Homo sapiens: one gene and its partner. The protein of the gene in region 1 purifies or fractionates together with the protein of each later gene. This does not show direct contact. Each region holds a gene or a part of one and is shown on either strand. Other genes may lie near its edges.

What was found. Proteins that work in one complex are often made in the same cells at the same time.
Region 2: the proteins of PISD (region 1) and PSME3IP1 purify together in Homo sapiens (co-immunoprecipitation; 2 studies listed by BioGRID and IntAct, with this or other methods). This does not show direct contact.

What each region holds. Positions count from the first base shown.
Region 1 is NC_000022.11:31,659,163-31,666,733, reverse strand, and holds the start of PISD (phosphatidylserine decarboxylase proenzyme, mitochondrial), read left to right. Parts: upstream 1-4,518; 5' UTR 4,519-4,525; coding exon 4,526-4,590; intron 4,591-7,571. UniProt on the Homo sapiens protein: Catalyzes the formation of phosphatidylethanolamine (PtdEtn) from phosphatidylserine (PtdSer). Plays a central role in phospholipid metabolism and in the interorganelle trafficking of phosphatidylserine.
Region 2 is NC_000016.10:57,169,040-57,176,039, forward strand, and holds part of PSME3IP1 (PSME3-interacting protein), read right to left. Parts: exon of another isoform or gene 6,503-7,000; coding exon of another isoform or gene 6,500-6,502; intron 5,982-6,499; exon of another isoform or gene 5,679-5,981; coding exon of another isoform or gene 5,676-5,678; intron 5,650-5,675; exon of another isoform or gene 5,581-5,649; intron 5,567-5,580; exon of another isoform or gene 5,426-5,566; coding exon of another isoform or gene 5,402-5,425; intron 5,252-5,401; exon of another isoform or gene 5,130-5,251; intron 4,947-5,129; exon of another isoform or gene 4,925-4,946; intron 4,831-4,924; coding exon of another isoform or gene 4,816-4,830; coding exon 4,689-4,815; intron 3,836-4,688; coding exon 3,737-3,835; intron 3,334-3,736; coding exon 3,212-3,333; intron 1-3,211. UniProt on the Homo sapiens protein: Promotes the association of the proteasome activator complex subunit PSME3 with the 20S proteasome and regulates its activity.

The DNA.
Region 1 (7,571 bases):
AAGAAAAAAAGTGCTAAGGACCCACAACAAAATTTTTAATATTAAAATTAAAAAATGAGGCTGGGTGCGATGGCTCATGCCTGTAATCCCAACACTTCGGGAGGCCGAGGCAGGAGGATCACTTGAGCCCCCGAATTTGGGATCAGCCTGGCCAACATGACGAAACCCTGTCTCTCTAAACAAAAATACAAAATTTAGCCAGGCGTGGTGGCCAGTGCTTGTAATTGAAGGCACTGGAGAGGCTGAGGCAAGAGAATCGTTTGAACCCGGTAGGCGGAGATTGCAGTGAGCCGATATCGCGGGCCACTGCACTCCAGCCTGGGCCACAGAGTGAAACTCTGTCTCAAAGGAAAAAAAGGAAAAGAATATAATAATAATGAATTCAGCTTGGATTTATAAATATAAATGTGTTAATATAAAGACAATAGTCTTTATACCAATACGGTTGTAAAATAAAATTCTTAATTTTTTATGGAGAAAAGGGTCAGTCCACTGAGGCAAAAGTGCTTGGGGCTCACGAAAGCCTCGAAGCTCTGCCACTACCATCCACACTGCAAAAATCCTTTGAAAACAAAATTGAGGCAAGCTCGTTTTTTTTTTTTTTCTTGAGACGGAGTCTCGCTCTGTCGCCCAGGCTGGAGTGCAGTGGCGCTATCTCAGCTCACTGCAAGCTCTGCCTTCCGGGTTTACGCCATTCTCCTGCCTCAGCCTCCAGAGTAGCTGGGACTACAGACGCCCGCCACCACGTCCGGCTAATTTTTTTGTATTTTTAGTAGAGACGGGGTTTCACCGTGTTAGCCAGGATGGTCTCGATCTCCTGCCCTCGTGATGCGCACGTCTCCGCCTCCCAAAGTGCTGGGATTACAGGCGTGAGCCACCGCGCCCAGCCAAGCAAGCTCGTTCTTAAATGCTAGGCTAATTCTGCCCCCTAGCGGCCACAGAGAAATCTCAGAAATTAATGCCCCCAGTTGTTGAGTAATTCGCACCTACCAGGTGCCTTGAACTTACGCTGCATTATTTTGTCCTCACAATTCCATGAGGTTAAGTGATATCCAAATGTATAGATAAGCTGCCGAAGATTCGAGTGCTTAAGTCGGTTTGTTGTTGTTTTTTTTTGAGACGGGGTCTCAAAAGACAGGATCTTACGGAAGTTAATGCTGTTTCCTACTGAAGGAGGCACAGCGAGCGCAAGCCTTGGTGGGCAGGAAGCGTGCTTTAAAGTTTGAGACTGTCAGGCCCGGCGCGGTGGCTCACGCCTGTAATCCTGGCACTTTGGGAGGCCGAGGCGGGCAGACTTGAGGTCAGCAATTTGAGACCAGTCCGGCTAACATGATGAAAACCCGTTTCTACTAAAAATTCGAAAATTAGCTGGGTGTGTGGCACGCCTGTAGTCCCAGCTACTCGGAAGGCTGAGGCAGGAGAATCGCTTGAACCCGGGAGGTGGAGGCTGCAGTGAGCCGAGATCGCATCTCTGCACTCCAACCTGGGCAACAGAGTGAGGCTCTGTCTCAAAAAATAAAGTTGGAGACTTTTATTCTAAAAGCATTCAGTGAGCCATTTATTTATTTATTTTCCTGTAAGCTTGGAAAAATAGGTTCTTCCCCACCCATCTACATGACAGTAATGAGCAAATATCCTTATCAGATAATACATGATTTGCAAACATTTTCTTTCATTCTGTGGGTTGCCTTTTCTCTCTCTCTCTCTTTTTTTTAAGGCAGAGTTTCACTCTTGTTGCCCAGGCTGGAGTGCAATGGTACGATCTCGGCTCACCACAACCTCCACCTCCCATATTCAAGTGATTCTCTTGCCTCAGCCTCCCGAGTAGATGGGATTACAGGCTTGCGCCACCACATGCGGCTAATTTTTGTATTTTTACTACAGACAGGGTTTCACCACGTTGGCCAGGCTAGTCTCCAACTCCTGATCTCAGGTGATCTGCCCGCCTTGGCCTCCCAAAGTGCTGGGGTTACAGGCGTGAGACACCGCGCCCAGCGTCTTTTCACTCTCTTGATAGTGTTCTTTGATGCACAAAAGTTTTAATTTCGAAGTATATCTTTTTGTTGTTTTTGTTGTTGTTGCCTGTGCTTTTAACGTCATATACAAGAAATCATTGCTAAATCCAACGTCATGAAGATTTCCCCTATGTTTTCGTCTAAGAGTATTATAGTTTTAGCTCTTCAGTTTACATCTCTGATCCATTTTGAATGAATTTTTGTATATGGTGTAAGGCTGCACTTTACTTTTTGTATATGGATATTCAGTTTTCCCAATGCACTTCATTTGGAAATAATTTCCCCCCATTCCCTGCTGGTTTACTACTCTCAATTGGATAGTAAAACCAATTAAACCAATATGTATTTTTTTTTTAAATGGTGTCTCACTCTGTCTCCCAGGCTGGAGTGCAATGGCATTATCTCAGCTCACTGCAACCTCCCCCTCCCGGGTTCAAGCAATTCTCGTACCTCAGCCTCTGGAGTAGCTGGGATTACAGGCAGGCGCCACTATGCCCAGCTAATTTTTGTATTTTTAATAGAGATGGGGTTTCACCATGTTGGCCAGGCTGGTCTCGAACTCCTGACCTCAGGTGATCCGCCCGCCTTGGCCTCCCAAAGTGCTGGGATCATAGGGTGAGCCACGGTGCCCAGCCTCTTAAAAAAAAAAAAAAAGAGATGGAGTCTCACTATGTTGTCCAGGCTGGTCTCTTTTTTACTTCCTTTTTTTTTTTTTTTTTTTTTTTGAGACGGAGTCTCACTCTGTCACCCAGGCTGGAGTGCAATGGCGCGATCTCGGCTCGCTGCAAGTCCGCCTCCCGGGTTCACGCCATCCTCCTGCCTCAGCCTCCAGAGTAGCTGGGACTACAGGCGCCCGCCACCACGCCCGGCTAATTTTTTTTGTATTTTTAGTAGAGATGGGGTTTCATCGTGTTAGCCAGGATGGTCTCAATCTCTTGACCTCGTGATCCGCCCACCTCGGCCTCCCAAAGTGCTGAGATTACAGGCGTGAGCCACCGCGCCCGGCCCAGGCTGGTCTCAACTCCTTGGCTCAAGCTATCCTCCCACCTCAGCCTCCCAGTGAGTGGGGATTGCAGGCGTGAGCCACTGCGCCCGGCCAAAACCAATTCTATACATTTGTTTTTTTCTTTTCCGACTTTTGAAAACCATGACAAAGGGAGGTTTCTTCCCCCCAATACCAAACCTGGTGCCTTTTAAGCTCTCTGTAGGAGCTGAGTATGCCCTAGTTGAACTTAAGCCAACTACACAGAAATACCTGCAGGGACCAGGGAGCATATTCCTCCTCCTGTCAAATGCCTGGTGAAGGCAACTGTGATTATCAGCTTAGCAGATGAAAAAGTAGGGCTGCATTCCTTCAGTTGTTGGACCCAAATTCTGCCAGATTCTGACAAAGGGCTTAAAAGGAAGAATGTTTAGGCCAGGTGCGGTGGCTCACGCTTGTAATCCCAGCATTTTGAGAAGCCGAGGCGGGCGGATCACGAGGTCAGGAGATCGAGACCATCCTGGCTAACATGGTGAAACCCCGTCTCTACGAAAAATATATATAAAAAAATTAGCCGGGCGTTGTGGCGGGCGCCTGTAGTCCCAGCTACTCGGGAGGCTGAGGCAGGAGAATGGCGTCAACCCGGGAGGCGGAGCTTGCAGTGAATCGAGATCGCGCCACTGCACTCCAGCCTGGGCGACAATGAGAGACTCTGTCTCAAAAAAAAAAAAAAAAGAAGAAGATGTTTAGGACATGGTTTTTGGAGTCAGAGACGTATGTTCAAATTCTGGCTTCACTATTTTATAGTCTTTGGGCATATGCCCTTTATGTACCCTTGAAGATGTTGCTTAACCTTCCTGAGCCTCAGGTACCTCATCTTTAAAATGGGGATAATGTCTCGGGCCTAGCTGCGAGTCTCTAGTCAGTGCTCAGTAAAAAGTAGCAGACATGATTGAAAACTCGTTTTCCTCTTACAATTGAAGATAGGAACCTTTTCAAGAGCAAGCACCAGGCACCGAATTTAACGACTGGTTGCATTTCTAGGTGATCCAAGACCGTTTGCCCCCGGTCTCCCTGGCAGCACAGCGGTAGGAGATAAGAATGATATGACACCATGCTTGCAAAGTGCTCACAACACACTCCGGCGCTTAAAAAACGAGAGCTGAGTCATGGATGCCCAGTTTCCCCATCCGTAAAATGAGCAAGTTCGATCACTTGAAACGACATTCTTGGATCTTGGATGACTCAGATTTTCCAGGTACATGAGGAAAGGCACCCAGAGGGAAGGAGGAGGAGTGGCAGTGCTGCGACCAAGCCCAGGTTTAGCGAAACCTACAGCTCCACTAGTTCCCCTACCTCCGCAGGTGCCAAGCGGGTTAGGTGGGGAGTAGCCACAGGGCGGAGCTTAGTCGGCTCCGCCCCCAACCCGCGCTTTTCTCATTGGCCCACTGAACTCGAGACTCGTGACGCCTTAAGCGTGCGCCCAGCGTGTGAAGGGGGCGTGGCACGCTGAGAAGGAGCAGACAAGATGGCGACGTCCGTGGGGCACCGATGTCTGGGATTACTGCACGGGGTCGCGCCGTGGCGGAGCAGGTATAGCAGCGCGGAGAGACTACCTTGGGGCGTGGGGCAACCTGGACCAAGCTGGGGTCTGAAGAGAGATGTTTCTGTGTCGCGGGCTCGCTCTGAGGCGAGCTCGGGTGGAGACGGAGCCACCTTCACCTCGAGCTTAGGAGCAGGTGCGACTGCTCCTGCGTAGGGCGGTCCGGATTTACTTAGGGTGTGGCCTAGAAGCTCGCGCTTTGCCCTTTCCAGCTAGGTGGAAGTTCACGAGGGACAAAAATCAGATGAAATAGGCTACCTGCCCGTCTCTTGAGTCGAGGCAGGGCTTTCAGATGTTCAGATGCCATTTTCTCGTGTGTTCGTTTTCGTAGAAGGAATGATGTCCTGTGGGAAGGACACTAGATTGAGTGTCAGGCAACTTTCATTTCTGGATCTTAGTCTTTGAAGCTAGAGGGTTAGGTTAGGTAATCTCAAAACAATATGTTATGGGGCTAGAGTCTTGGTTACCCTTGTGACCCCCAGCTGTTAGATTCTTAGAAATGTGGGAGACTTGAGGGGTCTTCTGAGTCCAGCTGTCTCTCTTTGGAGTTAATGAGATTGAGGCTCCGAGAGAGGGAGGGATTTGCTCAAGTTCACCTAGCCAGTTTGTAGCAGAGCCCGGACCCCCATCAAGGTACCCCCTCACGCGACGATCTTTCTCTCAGGCTGCCCGCCGTGAGGGCAGTGGTTATACAGAAAATAGCTTAGAGCATTTGGAGTGTCGGAAAATGGATTAAAATGTAGCTGTGATTCAGAGTCGGCTGCCTGGTGTCATTTCAAAGAGCTAAGATTTGAGAGATGCGCCATACTTGTGTGTTTCCTACAGGGTTCATTTTGTCAGCGTTGATCAGAGGATAACCTATTGTTTTGGGAGGAGACGGACACTGGATTTGGACTGAGAGGGAACAGAAACCATCATTGGTCTTGTTATGAAAGCGTCACTCTTTCATCATTAACTGTACAGAAATGATTATCTCTCAGGAGAGGGCTCTGCATTGTGGTGGTAACTGTTAGAATTTGGGCAGGAGACTTTGTTTTCAATGTTATTACCAGGCGTGCTGTGTATGAGTCAACCCTGAATTCATTTAAAGTGTGTCACAGGCTGGGCGCGGTGGCTCACGCCTGTAACCTCAGCACTTTGGTAGGCCAAGGTGGGTGGATCACTTGAGGTCAGGAGTTCGAGACCAGCCTGGCCAATGTGGTGAAACCCTGTCTCTACTAAAAAATACAAAAATTAGCCGGGCATGGTGGCAGGCACCTGTAATCCCAGCTACTTGGGAGGCTGAGGCAGGAGAATTGCTTGAACCTGGGAGGCGGAGGTTGCAATAAGCCAAGACTGCGCCGCTGGAGTCCAGCCTGGGCGACAGAGTGAGACTCTGTCTCAAAAAAATTAAAAATAAATAAAGTGTGTCACGAATTGAAAGGACTAAAATGAGACTCTTAAAAAATTGTTTTTTGTTGTTGTTATTTGTTTTGGAAGTCAGAGCCTCACTCTGTTGCCCAAGAGGGAGTGCAGTGGTGTGATGATGGCTCACTGCAGCCTCCACCTCCTGGTCTCAAGCAGTTCTTCCACCTCAGCCTCCTGAGTAGCTAGGACCACAGGTGCACGCCACCCCGCCCAGCTGCATTTTTTTTGGGGGTGGGGGTGGAGACAGGGTTTCACCATGTTGCCCAGGCTGGTGTTGAACTCCTGGGCTCAAGTGATCCACCCACTTTCACCTCTCTAAGTGCTGGCATTACAGAAGTGAGCCATCGCAGTCCACCTAAAATAATTTTTTTAAATGATGAGAGGAGGCTGTACCTCAGTCACCATCATTAAAAGGGAAAGAAAAAAAGCTATGTTTTAGTACCAGTGTAGATAGATAAGGCTAGACTTAGATGCAGTGGGTGAGAGAGATGAAGATTTGGGTACAATAAGAAACCTTAATTTTCAAAGGTATTCTATATCAAGATAGAAATGATATTAATACACAAACCAAAAAGATAACATTTCTGTGGGTTTTTAGTAAACCAGTGCCTATTTGTGAGACATGTAAATGAAAACCTTATATTTCAGGTAAGTTTTTCAATAACTGGGTGATGTGTGACAGGTGATAGATAACATCTTGGGTGATAATTTAGGGCCATGTTTCCTAAACTCATTTGATAAAAGAATGGGCTGAATGGGCTGGGATGCTTGTTAGAAATAGAGATTCCTTGGGAGTCTCTCTGAGCCTGCTGTAGTTTGGGAGGCTGGCTGATTAAAAAAAACAAAGCCGGGCACGGTGGCGCATGCCTGTAATCCCAGCACTTTGGGAGGCCAAGGTGGGTGGATCATGAGGTCAGGAGATCGAGACCAGCCTGGCCAACATGCTGAAACCCCGTCTCTAACAAAAATTAGCCGGGTGTGGTGGCGTGTGTCTGTAGTCCCAACTACTCAGGAGGTTGAGGCAGGAGAATCTCCTGAACCCGGGAGGCGGAAGTTGCAGTGAGCCGAGATCACGCCACTGGACTCCAGCTTCGGCAACAGAGCAAGACTCCGTCTCAAAAAAAAAAAGATTCCAGATATGCCCCCATCCTACTGCCAATTTCAGATTCAGTAGATATAAGTTGGGGCTCTGGCAACTGTAGTTTTTACAGGTGATTCTTAGGTTCAGGCAAGTACGGACAATAGTACCTAGGAAGTAGCTTCTCGTGCATGACTTCCATCAGAAATATTTATGGCATCCCTACCACTGCAAACCACACTGTCAACGGACCATAGAGAAGGGAGAAGAGAGAAGGGAAGGGGAGCAAATGAAGAAATTAAAAACATTTGAAATAGGCCTTGTCTTCAAGGAACTTTACTATATACTTGTAATACATGGTGGAATACGGGATAAAGCCTTCAAGAGGTCTGTCCGTTCTGTTTTAGGAGAACTTTCACAGCTTTAGAAAGCAAGGGAGACATAAGGACTATAGGCAAAATGTTACTACTAGGGGTGATGTTAAAA
Region 2 (7,000 bases), on another chromosome or scaffold:
TTATTCTTTTGAAATGAAGAAAAGTCCTAACCTTTTAGGGGTAGGGGGTGTTAATAATCTTATTTTTGATCCGCAAAGTACAAGCAATTTTTCCTTCTTAAGCCCCTCTTCTCCCAAAATGCTTTAAAAACACAAACACACCTCAAAAATCTCAAGAAATTCATTAGATCAGCATTCTCTTAAAATTGCACCGTTTTTTAACATACACAATACTGCTAAATACTGGTTTAACCTGAGACGAAACAAGAGTTCTGTTATTTACATGGTTTAAACCACAGCTTATTTGTATTCAGAAGTATCCTATTATACAACATATCATATAGTAATCAAGCAAAGCCTAGAAACAGTTCCTAACTTAGAGCTTCAATAAACAAATGTCTAATCCTTCAATTCCTATCTCAACATGTCTCTGGCTACTTGCATGCTTGGGATTAGTGTATTAGATGTCAGTGACTTGGAAGGCCTGCTTTTCTTCAGTTTTTCTAGACAGAACTTTCCAAGTTTCCAGTTAAAGCCCTTATCCCTGGAGCCTCATTGTACTGCAATGTTACCAGGACACAAAGGTTTCTTTTGTCTCACTGCTGCCCTGTTCATTCTTTCCTTTTAATTGAAAACCAAAGGGCATCTCACACTCAACAGCACTTCTCCCCAGATGCTACTTTGGGGGACACTATATGTCTTATTTGCTAGTCTACCAAAATAAAACATAATATCATTCAAGTGAGAAGTGTAATGAATGTATTTCCTTAGAGGAAAAAGCTTGGTGTCTGAAACAACACAATATGGGTATCTGCCTATCTCTACAAACGAACACATATTATTTTGGGGTCATCAGGGTCAGGGAAGGGGGAGTTCAGAATAATCAGCCTCAATCCTACAGTTGAGATTGAGGTATAACTTCCCATGAGCTTCCATCTCCATGTTGCACCTGAATGCCAGTAACAGAACTGGGACTGGAAGCCAGGTCTTTTCCTACCAGTTCTGATGTAAATCAATTCCCAGGGAATCAGGGAATCTGTCCATGTCTTCTCCCATACAACGCTTTTTTTTTTTTTTTTTTTTAAGATAAAGTCTTGCTCTGTCCCCAGCCTGGAGTACAGTGGCGTGACCTTGGCGCACTGCAATCTCCACCTTCCAGGTTCAAGCGATTCTCCTGCCTCAGCCTCCTGAGTAGTTGGGACTACAGGCACAAGCCACCATGCCCGGCTAATTTTTGTATTTTTAGCAGAGACAGGGTTTCACCATTTTGGCCAGGCTGGTCTCAAACTCCTGACCTCAAGCGATCCTCCTGCCTCGGCCTCCCAAAGTGCTGGAATCAAAGGCGTGAGCCACTGTGTCCAGGCCTCCCACGTAACTCTTAAAATGGAATGTGCTGCACATTCTCTGCAAGAAAATACCAACTAGTACATATACACAGTAATGTCGTCCATCTTAGACGTGAAGCCTGTTGGATTACACCAGTGATGTTACTCAACATATAAGCTTGAAATATCCAAATAAGCTTCCTCACATGAAGATAAATGGTCCTATTAATATCTCCTATGAATCATTTATTAATTTATTCACATATTTACTGAGAATCTACTATATGCCAGGCACTGGAGAAATCAGAAGTGACCAAGTCAGATAGTCTTTTTTCTTATGGAGCTCATTTACTTTACATTCTAGCAGGAAAGAGATAAACAAACCAGTAGGCAAATAAATAAAGACAACTTTCAGATAGTGACAAATCTATAAAAAATGATATTACTTGCTGGGTGCGGTGGCTTACGCCTGTAATCCCTGCACTTTGGGATGCTGGAGTGGGCGGATCACCTGAGGTAACGAGTTCGAGACCAGCCTGACCAATATGATGAAACCTCGTCTCTACTAAAAATACAAGAATTAGCTGGGCGTGGTGGCATGCACCTGTAACCCCAGCTACTTGGGAGGCTGAGACAGGAGAATCGCTTGAACCCGGGAGGCGGAGGTTGCAGTGAGACGAGATCGCGCCACTGCAGTCCAGCCTGGGCAACAAGAGAGAAACTCCATCTCAAAAAAAAAAATTGATATTACCGACAGCAATTTTAGGTGGGGTGCTTAGGGAAGGTTTCTAAAAGGGAGAGCTGAGCAGAGGGCTGAGCTGTGAAATGCATCTTGCAAAATCTGAGGGCAGAACATTTTGGGCTGAGGAAACAGCAAGTCTGAGGCCCTGAGATTGACTCAGAAAGCATGGTGAAAGAGAACATAAAGAAGGCCAGCAGGCTGCAGTACAGTCAACATGAGAAAGAGTGGCTTCAAGATGCAAGAAGGAGGCGGGTTGGCCTAAATAATGTAGAACCTTCTACGGCCTGATACAGAGTAAGACTTTAGTCTAAATGTAAGGGGAACCCACTAGACTGTTTCAAATAGAAAAGTGACATGATGCCATGTATGGTTTTTAAAGTTCCCTTTCTTGTCTAAGGAATAGATTATTGAGGATGAGAGCAGAAACAAACCAATTAGATGGTCACAGGAGTCGAGAAGAAAGTCTACTACTACTACAGTAGCAGTAGATACCAACAATTCAAGAGATTTGGAGTACGTTTTGGAAACAGTTCTTGGCCCAGGCACCTGGAGGCATAGGACTACCAGTTACTGGGACTGGGAGGACCAGAAAAAGAAGAGACTTTGGGGAAGGGCAGTGTGATGAGAGTGGGGGTGATGTGGCACAGTATTGAGAATTTTGATTCAGCCAAGTTTCATTTGGGATGTCTATGAAGACATTCAAGTGGATGACCAAAAGGCAACACTGATCTAGAGCAAAGTCATCTTTGCTGCTTTCTCAGCCCTTCTATCAGGACAGGGCATGCTATACCACTAGAGAACATCTTACTAAGAATATAGGAAAGTTGCTAAACATGTTCTTTTAAAACTCAGAGCCCAATTTCTCCCCTGGATGAAGCTGACTGCACTGCCCACCTGTGTCAGAATCTAATCCCAGTACTAGTAGGATTGATGCCTTGAGTTAACCCTAAGAAGGATGTGGACTTTTGACTATAACACTCTTGCACACAACACAAACTCCACAAACCACTACCAGCTTTTCAGAATTACAGGAATATCAGTGTTCAAAGGGACTTGAGAGATCACCAGGTAGAAAACCCTCTTTCTGTTGATGAGGAGACAACATCCATAGATGCTGATGAGAAAATGGACACCTTACAGGTTTTCCTCCAAGTACAAAGGATATTCTGTATTCCTTCAGTTCTTTCAGTTCTTCTTCTCTTCGTTGCTTTTCTATTAGTTCCTGCTGTCGAGAAACCTCATCAAGGAAGTTGGTCTCATCTTCATCTAAGCCTCTTACCATGTTTTCTGAGGAAATAATTAAACAAGGCACACTTAGCAGGCTAAAGGGAAAAATAAGATTTTTCCTTTCCCCTTTTTAAATAAGCAGCAGATTCTTCAGGGGATTAAAAAAAAAAGAACTGGTAAATACCATGGCGTTTGAATAGATAACAGGGCATAAAAAAAAACAAGGCATTTTTTCCCATTACTAAATATTACCATAGAATTAAAATGGGTGTTTTGAGCTCTAAACAAAAATATTCAATGTGGTCTAGAAGGCTGAAGGCTGTCTCTTTTCCACCAAATAAGCATCCGGAGACTCGAAAATCAAGACAATTCCACGGCTAGTTAGGAAAAGTGCTGCACAAGGCAAAAGTGCGTCAAAAGTACCCCACAGAGCCCCTTGAACTCTCTGTTTTCTGAAGCTTACTGAATTTGAACTGTTCCTCGTACTCCTGCTGCTTCCTGTCCTTCTGTTCCTGTAGCCTTTCATATAGAGATCGAGGGTCATAAACCTCCTCTGGACATTCTGAAAGGAAAAGGAGAGGGGAGAGAGGTGGACGGGGAGGAGATATACACTTCAGATTGTTTTCATATTATTTTGGAATCACAAAAGGTTTTAAAGACAAAGTCAAGTCTCTGCATGATCTGAGGGTGTGGATAACACAAAAATAGTACAAAGTCCAGTTTCCCTTTGGACCTCAGAGAGGGGCCACCAGTTCTCAAAGCCAACTATCAATGTCAATAGCGCCCATGGCCTGAGACAGTTAACTGATTGAGGGGCCAGCCCAAACCCTCCACAGCAGCAGTGTTCTCAGTTGTTCAGACCATGGATCCACCTGTATAGATGGAGGAGAGGAGCAGAATCTCTTGGAAGGAAGTGTGGTAGGCAGAAAAGAAGCAGGATGTGAGTATGCTGGCTCTGCTCCCAGCTGTGCAGGACCTTACATAGGTGACTTCGCCCCTGAGTCTCAGTTCCTCAACTCTAAAGTATGGACAATTGGCCAGGCATGGTGGCTCACACCTGTAATCCCAGCACTTTGGGAGGCCGAGGCAGGAGGATGGCTTGAGCTCAGGAGTTTGGAACCAGCCTGGCCAACAGATGAAACTCCATCTCTACCAAAAATACAAAAATTAGCCAGGCGTGGTGGCTGGTGCCTGTAATCCCAACTACTCGGAAGGCTAAGGCAGGAGAATCTCCTGAGCCTGGGAGGCAGAGGTTGCAGTGAGCCAAGATCGCGCCACTGCACTCCAGCCTGGGCAACAGAGTGAGACTCCGTCTCAAAAAAATAAATAAATAAAACCAAGTGAGGACAATTAATACCTACTCTGCAGGGTTGCTGTGTGGATTAAAGACCATTATACTGACTGTCACAGTATACCTTCTGGATCTTCAGGTTTTCGAACTTTCTCCCATTCTTCTTGCCTCCTTTTGCGCCGTTCATCTAGTTCTGCCTCAGACACAAACCTCTTTTTGATAATAAGGTTACCATCATCCCCTCCATCCATAATGAAACAACCAATCTACAAAACAAAAACAAAAACAAAAAAAATCATTTCAAGTGAGAACTGCAATTAAAATTCTAAAGAGAAACAAGGAGATTTAGCTCCATCTCACCCAGCAACAAACTAAAAATTATCTTCCAACTTTGAATTGAAAAAATTCTCGGCCGGGTGCGGTGGCTCATGCCTGTAATCCTGGCACTTTGGGAGGCCGAGGCGCATGGATCACGAGGTCAGGAGTTCAAGACCATCCTGACTGACATGGTGAAACCCCGTCTCTACTAAAAATACAAAAATTAGCCAGGCACGGTGGCACGCACCTGTAATCCCAGCTACTCAGGAGGCTGAGGCAGGAGAATCGCTTGAACCTGGGAGGCGGAGGTTGCAGTGAGCCAAGATCACACCGCTGCACCCCAGCTTGAGCGACAGGGCAAGATTCTGTCTCAAAAAAAAAAAAAACTCTCAAATAGTTTAATTTATAGGCCATTGATGAAAGCACATGAATACATTTTTCCTGACATATCAGAGAATTTTTATTAACATCGATGTTATCTACACAGTTGGCAAGAGGACCTGGGATAATTCTTATTACCTGGTGTTCCATAGTAAATCTCATATTGCAGCTATTTCTCTGTCCCTCTAATCTAGAAAAATTGGCCTCCTGAGCATCCCATCCTTTTCCCAGCTCTCATCCTCCTTTATTTCTGTAACATCTGACATTGTTTCTTCTTGAAATTCCTGTTTCTGAGACATTACACTATCTTGATTCACCTGCTCTTGCCTCCAAGTAGATTAAGATGGAGAATCTCAGCTATTGAAGACTTAGTGTTCAAGTCCAGTCTGTATAGCAGGGAAGGTGCACAAACCATGAATGGAGAAAGTGAGACTGGAAGAACAGATCTCCCAACTTCAGTTCCACGTACTTTCCTGAATACTAATCTGACTCTTCATTTATATCTCTTCTGACCTTCCTCCCTGTAAACCCCTTGTCTGTGCCATTTAAGATTTGAACTTCAATCCTTCTCTTTTCTCACTCCCACAATCACCTCAACCATTTTATGCATATTTTGACACAGAAGATTACCGAATCTGTTATTTCTACCTGAGCTTTTCTTCAAAGAGGAGAGAAGGAAATAAAGATAGCAGAGTGTATATTACTTATTACTCCTTTTTTTTTTTTTTTTGAGATGAAGTCTCGTTCTGTCACCCAAGCTGGAGTCCAGTGGTGCAATCTCAGCTCACTGCAACCTCCGCCTCCCAGGTTCAAGCGATTCTCCTGCCTCCGCCTCCTGACTAGCTGGGACTACAGGCGTGTGCCAACACGCCCAGCTAATTTTTGAATTTTTAGTAGAGATGGGGTTTCACTATGTTGGCCAGGCTTGTCTCGAACTCCTGAACTCGTGATCTGCCCGCCTAGGCCTCCCAAAGTGCTGGGATTACAGGGGTGAGCCACCGCACCTGGCCATATTACTCCTTTTAAACTAAACCTCTGTTTTTCTTTATTGGTTTCTTTCCTTTTGAGTAACTGTGGAATTAACCCCTACCCAGACATGTTATTCACAGCACTATGTGCTAACAAGGAGGCACATATTCAATCCAATGTCCATTCCAAGATAACCACTAACAACAAAAACAGTAAGTTTCCACGCTACCACAAAAATAAAGCAGCTAACAGTTAATGAGCTCTTACCATGTATTATATTCCTTTTATGGATATTATCTAATTTACATGATCATTGACCCTATGAGAAATATTATCTGTTTACAGATGAAGTTGAGGTCCAGAGGAGTTAGATTATTTGTCTAAGGTGATACAGGTGGTGAATGGTAGAGCTGAGAACCAAATCCAGGCCTGATATCAAAAATGCATACTCTTACCAACTTTACCATACTCCTCCCCAGAAAACACTAAATCTTAGTTGAAAACAAAGACATGTCGACTTCAGCTTTCTTCCTACTTCAAATTCCAGTGCTGAGAATATTCATGCAACATTTTTATTTAGTAAAGCTAGAAATGGAAGCTGAAAAAACAAACCCAAACGTTCAGAACAAGAGAATAGTCTCAGCCTGAATACTACTGTTGCTGAGGTTTAGTTTAATGTAACAATAAGAGCGAATTGTGAAAATTACTAGAAAGAAATGAAATCAACTGACAGACGCTGTTGCTCCCACCTAAAGCCCACAACCTGGA